Linked DNA regions of Homo sapiens. The protein of the gene in region 2 purifies or fractionates together with the protein of the main gene of each other region. This does not show direct contact. Each region holds a gene or a part of one and is shown on either strand. Other genes may lie near its edges.

What was found.
Region 1: the proteins of CACNA1H (region 2) and PPP3CB purify together in Homo sapiens (co-immunoprecipitation; one study listed by IntAct). This does not show direct contact.

Annotation. Positions count from the first base shown.
Region 1 is NC_000010.11:73,440,368-73,444,184, forward strand, and holds part of PPP3CB (serine/threonine-protein phosphatase 2B catalytic subunit beta isoform), read right to left. Parts: exon of another isoform or gene 3,422-3,817; intron 1-3,421. UniProt on the Homo sapiens protein: Calcium-dependent, calmodulin-stimulated protein phosphatase which plays an essential role in the transduction of intracellular Ca(2+)-mediated signals.
Region 2 is NC_000016.10:1,197,922-1,201,738, reverse strand, and holds part of CACNA1H (voltage-dependent T-type calcium channel subunit alpha-1H), read right to left. Parts: intron 3,125-3,817; coding exon 2,965-3,124; intron 1,484-2,964; coding exon 1,168-1,483; intron 1,024-1,167; coding exon 931-1,023; exon of another isoform or gene 518-930; intron 408-517; exon of another isoform or gene 350-407; intron 96-349; exon of another isoform or gene 77-95; coding exon 1-76.

The DNA.
Region 1 (3,817 bases), on a different chromosome or scaffold from region 2:
AGTTGGTTCCCTAAGACATAAACTAGAAGGGGTCAGCAATGCTTTACCTGTTACTTGTAATTTATAAGGCAAAACATAAGCTGCAAGAGCTGATATGACTACAGTGAAATTTAAGGGCAGTAAACTTGATGAATTACTATAAGTAGAACAGTTCTGTGGCTCTGTTCTTTGTGGGGGACCTGAAAGGACTTCTCCTGTCTACCAGTAACTTCCTTTCTATTCTAGTACTGATGTTCCAAATACCTACAGATACTAACATCTATAGCCTTAAAAAATTCCATTTATACTGACAGAGTTTATCATGAACTCAAATTTGCCTCAGAAAAAGACTACTGAGCATCTTTTCAAACTCATCTACCAATTAAAGAGACATTAAGGAAGAGAAGTGAGGTCTTACAGGCATAAATTCTAATTATTTCATGATATAGACACATAGGTCATATTATAAATAAGAAATACATTATTGGTATAGTGTGTCACTGGTCCATTTAGAGAATTTCACCATAATTAGTCAAACATTTTATAGTCAAAGATTCTTTTTTTCGCTCATTTCTGGGTTTGAACTGTATAAAGAGCTCACACTGAGGACCAGGACTCAAGATAGCACACAACAATACTGGTTTACAATATTGTCCATTCCCCTTATTACTCAGAATATTTGTAAAAGTAATGCCCTGGTCTCTCCTATTTTGCTTCTTCTGCAATAAGGCCAATTAGAATAATTATTCCTGAAGTGATCTTTTAGCAATTAACATGATTTAGAAATAATTTTATCCAAAGCAATTATTAATGTAAAAGAAACTGATGAATCTAAGGTATTAAAGTGAACTAAGTTAGAAAATGTTGATCTTAACCAGACAGTAAAGTGAATTGGGGACCCAAAAGAATTAGGACGAACACTGAATAAAGGAAGAGTTAATTTTCCTTAACTGTTAAACTACATTACAAATCGGGCAGGACATGGAAGATCATGCCTATAACCCCAGCACTCTCGGATGGCTGAGGTGGAAGGATCCCTTGAGCGTTTGAGCCCAGCCTGGGCAACACATAGAGAGACCTCATCTCCCCCCAAAAAAAGTTTAAAAAATTAGCCGGGCATGGTGGTGTGCATATGTAATCCCAGCTACTCGGGAAGCTGAAGCAGGAAGATCACTTGAGCCCAGATTGCTAATTGCAACACTCTATCTGAAAGGCACTATTTCTCCTCTATTTGTTTTCAGTTATATAGGGCATCTTGTCATGGCCTTAATAAGTTTGAGCATAGTGCTATCTCAAACTGTGTTCCTCAGTACTATGCAAGATAAATGACCAAGAGGAATTTGGTATTACTAACATAGAATTGGCCACATATATTTCCCATATAGATCCTGGTGAGGGTAGCATTACAGTGCTAGCTCCCAATCAAATTTCCCAGAAAGAAAACATACATAAAATAAAGATGAACAGAAAATCCACCTCCAATAGAGTTGTGCAGTTTGTAAAAACACTCAAGAAACATCATGTAAATTAACTTTTAAAGTTCTTGAAACGACAATTTTTATTTTCTGACAAATAGGCACGAGGTCTTAGAATTAAAATTTTTTCCTTTTGCAATACCTAACTCTCAGTTATACACACTAACATCAGGGAACATTATCTACTAAAATTTAAAATGTAGGATAACTTTTTAAAAAATAATCACAAACATGCAGCTTTTGTATGACCTTTGTTATTTGTTTCAAAGTGGATTTATCTTATGCTAGGAAAATAATTTTGACCAAATGCCCAAACCACACTATCAAGAGCTAGCAAAACTAGAAGCTATCTAGTTTAAGGGGTCCCAAATTAGACCCCTTAAACTCAATTCCTTCCAGTAACTTAGTCCATGCTGAGAATAGAGAGTCCCTCCAGCAAAGCTGCTGTCTTTCAAACCTCCCCTGCAGTTGAGGGTGGTTTCAAAGTTGAAGGAATGAGCTTCAAGCCGTGTACAAATTAAGAATAAACAGAAGTCAACAAAGCATGTAATTAGCAGGGGCTAATCGTGAAATCTGAAAGCAAGGTTTGCTGCGGATACAATATAAAAGTAATGTTATATCCAAGGATAACTGAGAGATGACTATACTGTAGATTTATTTAAGTATGATACCCTTTTGGTTTTATTTTTCTTTTCTGAACAAAGAAGAGTATAATATTTTTGAAGCTATTAAAGTTCATCCTTTTCTATTAACATTTTTACTAGTTTTATCAAATGTTTAAGATCTTGTTTTAATGTACATTCATGAAATTCTTTTTAGTTCATTTTTCTAATGTTTACAATATAATAAGAAAAATGGAGGGCAAGGAATGTAAAGCAAATCAAAGCAGGTTGTTTTTTTTTTTTAAAGAAAATCAAAAAAAGAAACCTCATTCAGAATGAAAATTTATAATTTCAAAACACAGTGTACTTTTCAGATATACCAGTGGTGGTAGTGAACAATACAATGACATTTAAAATAGAACATGTATAGGCTACAAGTAAAAATTGTTTACAGGAAAAAAATTTTTTTTATTGAAAAGCAATCATTGGCCAGGCATAGTGGCTCATGCCTATAATCCCAGCACTTTGGGAGGCTGAGGTCAGAAGATTGCTTGAGCCCAGGAGTTTGAGACCAGCCTGGGCAATACAAAAATATAAAAAAATAAAAAATAAAAAAAATAAAAAAAATTAGCTGGCTGTGGTGGCATGTGCCTATGGTCTTAGCTACTTGGGTGGCTGAAATGGAGGACTGCTTGAGCCCAGGAGGTTGAGGCTGCACTGCACTCCAGCCTGGGTGACACAGCAAGAAACCAGACCCTGTCTGTCTCTCTCACACACACACATGTACACATGCACACAAAAAAAGAAAGACAGAGAGAGAGAGAGAAAGAGAGAGAGAGAGAGAGAAAGAAAGAAAGAAAGACAGAAAGAAAGAAAGAAAGAAAGAAAGAAAGAAAGAAAGAAAGAAAAAGAAAGAGAAGAGAAGAGAGAAAAGAAAAAAAAAGAGCACTTATTATGGAACCAAGTGAAATGAAATTGTGAAGTCAAATGTAAATTCATTCAAAACGTTAAAATTGCCTATTTTTTTCCCTCTAAAAAAGTCACTAATTACAACACCAAAAAGAAACCTAATTATGACTAAGGAAAACATCAGATCTGTTGCTATTTTAATAGACAATGACCCTTAGAGGGCTGTCAAAAGTGACTACAAGAAATTCAGGCTTTTCCACATCATGTATTTTTGCTTTCCAACCACAGGAAAAGAAATCTAGACTGAATTACTGTGTATGGTCACTAATACTCACATCACTCTCTTCTATTTAATCTGTAATGGGCTTTTAAAAAGTTAACCCAGTATTTACACAAATATTTACGCCAAAAAAAGTTTTTTAAGTATAAAATATTCAATGAGCCAGATTACAGGAATGCTTTACGTATAATTCTTTTTATTTTCATGCAAAATAAAGGCACACTTAATAACACCCTTTCAATTTTGACTTACAGGATTTAAATTCAACCCCTTATAACAATGACTTAATATCTAATGTTACATTCATGTTCAGAATGCACAAAGTGCAGCAACAAATGCAGCAAACCTCAAAACAAGGTGCTACAAAGCTGCTTCTACATTGCAAGACAGACAAGTGTCTGATGGAGTAATTTAATTGAACATACTTTTACAGACATACAGCTAACCTAAAGAAAGACAGACAGATTTAGGAAAGCAGCTACATCTGCAGAGGAAGGAAACAGCATGTTACAGACAGTTAATTATACATAGAACATTTGACAAACACCACAGAAAACAAACTTTGGCATCAT
Region 2 (3,817 bases):
TCTCCCGCTGCTTCGTCTCCGAGAACTGCGTGGCAATCACCACCAGGCACAGGTTGATCATGAAGAAGGAGCCCACCTGTGACGGGGGCGGGCGGGTAAGTGGCAGTGAGTGAGCGAGTCTCTGATTCGCCACTGAGCCCTACTGTGCGCTGCCTGTTCGAGTGGGGGCCGCGTCACAGGCACAGTGGGCGAGGTGCCCTGCTATGGGCAGGCTGCTGCGGTGTTCAGTGCTGAGCCCCCACGTCTGGAGCAGACGGCATACAGTAGCTGCTTTGTGCCTATCTGGACAAAAGACCTGGAACCCTCTTTCCTGCTTCTCCATGTGGCTCGGCCCCTCCTTTACCTGCAGATCTGGCCTTGAGATGACCCTCTCAACGGTGGCCACTCTCCCCTCCCCAGCACCCCAGGTGCGTTTCCTCCTTAGCATGGACCAGCGTGCAGCAAGTCTCTAATCGTTCGCTTCGCTTGCTCTCTCAGAACAAGCTGGGGACGTCTGTCTGCTTCTGTTACCTACTAGGTCCCCGCAGGGTGGCTCTAGGTATACCTAGGACCCCACAGACGTCTGCGGCCTGATTAACCCAACTCTGCCAGGACCCACTGGGGCCTATGAGAGGACCAGCTAAGGAGCACACCTGGGGCCACACACGCCCGTGGAAAGCGGTGCTGGGAGGCTATGCACTCCCCAGGGTGTTCCTGGCTCTTCAGCCCTGAGCCAGCACCCACAGGCCTGGACCCTGTCTAGGTGATGCCATGGCCTCTTGGGGTCCCCAGCCACACCTCCCCACCCCCGCAAGCTCTGCCTCCCTCCCCTGTGTGCTCCCTTCAGCTGGAAGACAGACAGGAGCCCCTATGACCACCCAGGTACCCCACCCCACCCCCAGCCAGCTAACACCAGGGCCCATCATGGCGAACACTGCCGCCCACACTCACGATGATGAGCAGGATGAAATAGATGAAGTTGTAGAATGAGTGGGCGTCCATGACGTAGTACATGATGTCCACCCAGCCTTCCAGCGTGATCACCTGGGGGGGCAGTGGCTTGACTTGGGCCCGCACGACCCCTCCTCCTCCTCCCCGTGCCCCTGGGGTCTGGGCTGGGGGGGGCGAGTCCTGCACCCGCTCCCCTGCCGTGCCCCAGGGTCCCCGTCCCACCATCTTGCCGCCCACCTGGAAGATGGCAATCCAGGCGTAGCCGATGTTGTCGAAGTTGATGGCACCGTTGTGGGGGTTGGAGTCACCCGAGCGGCACACGTTGTAGTACTGGTTCCAGTTGATGCAGGCGTTGCGTGCAGCGCCCACCCCCTCGGCCTGCGGCTGCGTGTAGGCCTCCCAGCCCAGGGTGCAGGGCATGCGCAGCTCGCGGCGGCCGGGGATGTGCGAGCACTTCTGCATGCCGTTGTCTCGGCGTGAGGAGCAGATGAACGGGTTCTCCTCGCCCTCCTCCGTCTGGTAGTACGGCCGCAGGAAGGTCAGGTTGTTGTTCCTGGGGATGGGCACAGCCAGGGCCAAAAGGTACAATCAGGGTCAGGGACGGTCAGAGTCGGGGGCACGATTGTGATCAGGGACGTGATCAAGGTCAGGGACGTGATCAGGGTCAGGGCCAGTGGACTAATCATGGTTAGGGAGGCACGGTTAGGGTCAGGGGGCATGATAGGACTGAGGGTCAAGACCCGGATCAGGGGACACAGCCAGGACCAGGGTCAAGAACACAGTGGTGCTGCAGAAACCACACTCTCCTCAGCCCAAGTCCACAGAGACAAACACACAAAGAACAGGGATGGACAGAGAAATCAACAAAGAACAGCACAGACAAACAGGGAGGGAGACCCAAGAGCCAGAAACCCAGGCTCAGACCTCAGCAACTCCTGGAAGCGGATGAGGGGCAAAGGGCAAGGGACGAGGGGAGGGAAGCCTGGGGTGAGGGAAAGGAGGCAGCCCTGGGGTGAGGGCTGAGAGGATCCAGGGGTGAGGGCTGAGGGCAGGGAACCCCGGGGTGTGGGCTCAGGGGACCCTGGGGTGAAGGCTGAGGGGAGACTCGGGGGTGAGAATTGAGGGGAGAACCCGGGGTGAGGGTTGAGGGGACCCCGGGGTGAGGGCTGAGGAGAGACTGCAGAGCAAGGGCCGAGGGGAGACCCTGGGGTAAGGTGTGACGGACTCTGGGGTGTGGGGAGGGGATGAAGTGTTGGGACTAACCTGTCTTGGGGGCTGAGAGGTGGCAGCACTGGGGGTGGGACATATGTGCAATGACCGCACGGTGGGTGGAGCCATGATGGGGGTGGGGCATATATGCAGCGACCGCACGGTGGGCGGAGCCATGATGGGGGTGGGGCATATGTGCAGCGACCGCACCGTGGGCGGAGCCATGATGGGGGTGGGGCATATGTGCAGCGACCGCACGGTGGGCGGAGCCATGATGGGGGTGGGGCATATGTGCAGCGACTGCGCGGTGGGCGGAGCCATGGTGGGGGGTGGGGCATATGTGCAGCGACTGCACGGTGGGCGGAGCCATGATGGGGGTGGGGCATATGTGCAGCGACCGCACGGTGGGTGGAGCCATGATGGGGGTGGGGCATATGTGCAGCGACCGCACGGTGGGCGGAGCCATGATGGGGGTGGGGCATATGTGCAGCGACTGCGTGGTGGGCAGAGCCATGGTGGGGGGTGGGGCATATGTGCAGCGACTGCGCGGTGGGCGGAGCCATGGTGGGGGGTGGGGCATATGTGCAGCGACTGCACCGTGGGCGGAGCCATGTGGGGCGGTGACTGCCAGCTGGGCGGAGCCATGATGGGGGGTGGGGGCGGGAGACAGCATGGTGGACGGAGCCATGACGGGGACAGCAGTGGCGGGGCGGGTGACTGCACGGTGGGCAGAGCCACGTGGGGCGGTGGAGCCACATGGTGCGTTATCTGCATGGTGGGCAGGGCCATCTGGGCAGGGGCCTCACGGGGGTGGGGCCTGGGCACCTGACAAAGGCACTGTCCAGGAAGCAGCGGTTCCGCAGGAGGCCAGCCCAGAGCTGGACGCCAACGATGCCGAAAATGAAGAAGACGAAGAAGCACAGCAGAAGGACGTTCCCGAGCATGGGCAGCGTATCCAGCAGCAGAGTGACCAGGATCCGCATGCCTGTGGGCAGCAGGGCCAGGATTGGCACTGCTAAGCCCTGCAGGAGTGTCCTCGGGGCTGCAGCCCCTCCCGGGACCCCCGAGCCCCGTCCACTGTTCACAGTGGGTGTCCACGCCCACTGCACACTGACTCGGGCCACCCCCTGGTGATTTTCCCGCACCCCTAGTGTGATCGGGACTCCCCTCCTACCACCACCGGCCTCCAGGGACACTGACACCCTGGGGTCTGACGTGCATCCAGCGGGGCGCCAGGTCTCCACCTCCAACCATCCCAGGGCAGCAGGTCTGCTGCTTTTGGAGGGCTGGGGTGTGGAGGGGCAGGAGTGGAGGCAGGGGACTGGCCGAGGCAGGGAACTGGCTGCGGCAGGTCTGACCACGTGGCATCTCGGGCTCGGGATGACCAGGCGGAGCCCAGTGGCCCTCGAGGCTTGTCTGGCGACACCCTGAAGTTGCCACCAAGGCAGCAGGAGCCTTGGGAGCCCCAGAACCTCAGGTGGTGGGCTGCCTCCTGGGGGTCTCTGCAGCAGGTCTGGGATCCTGAAAACTTTGTCTGATTCCCAGTGAGAATCCTGCCAGAACAGAGCCCCATCTCAGAGAGAGGCTGCTGGAGGCGGTGGGGAGGACCGGCAGCGGCTTTTCAGGAGGTAGCACTGAAGCCATCGGTCCTGGGTGCTATGGGCTACGTGAACTCCAG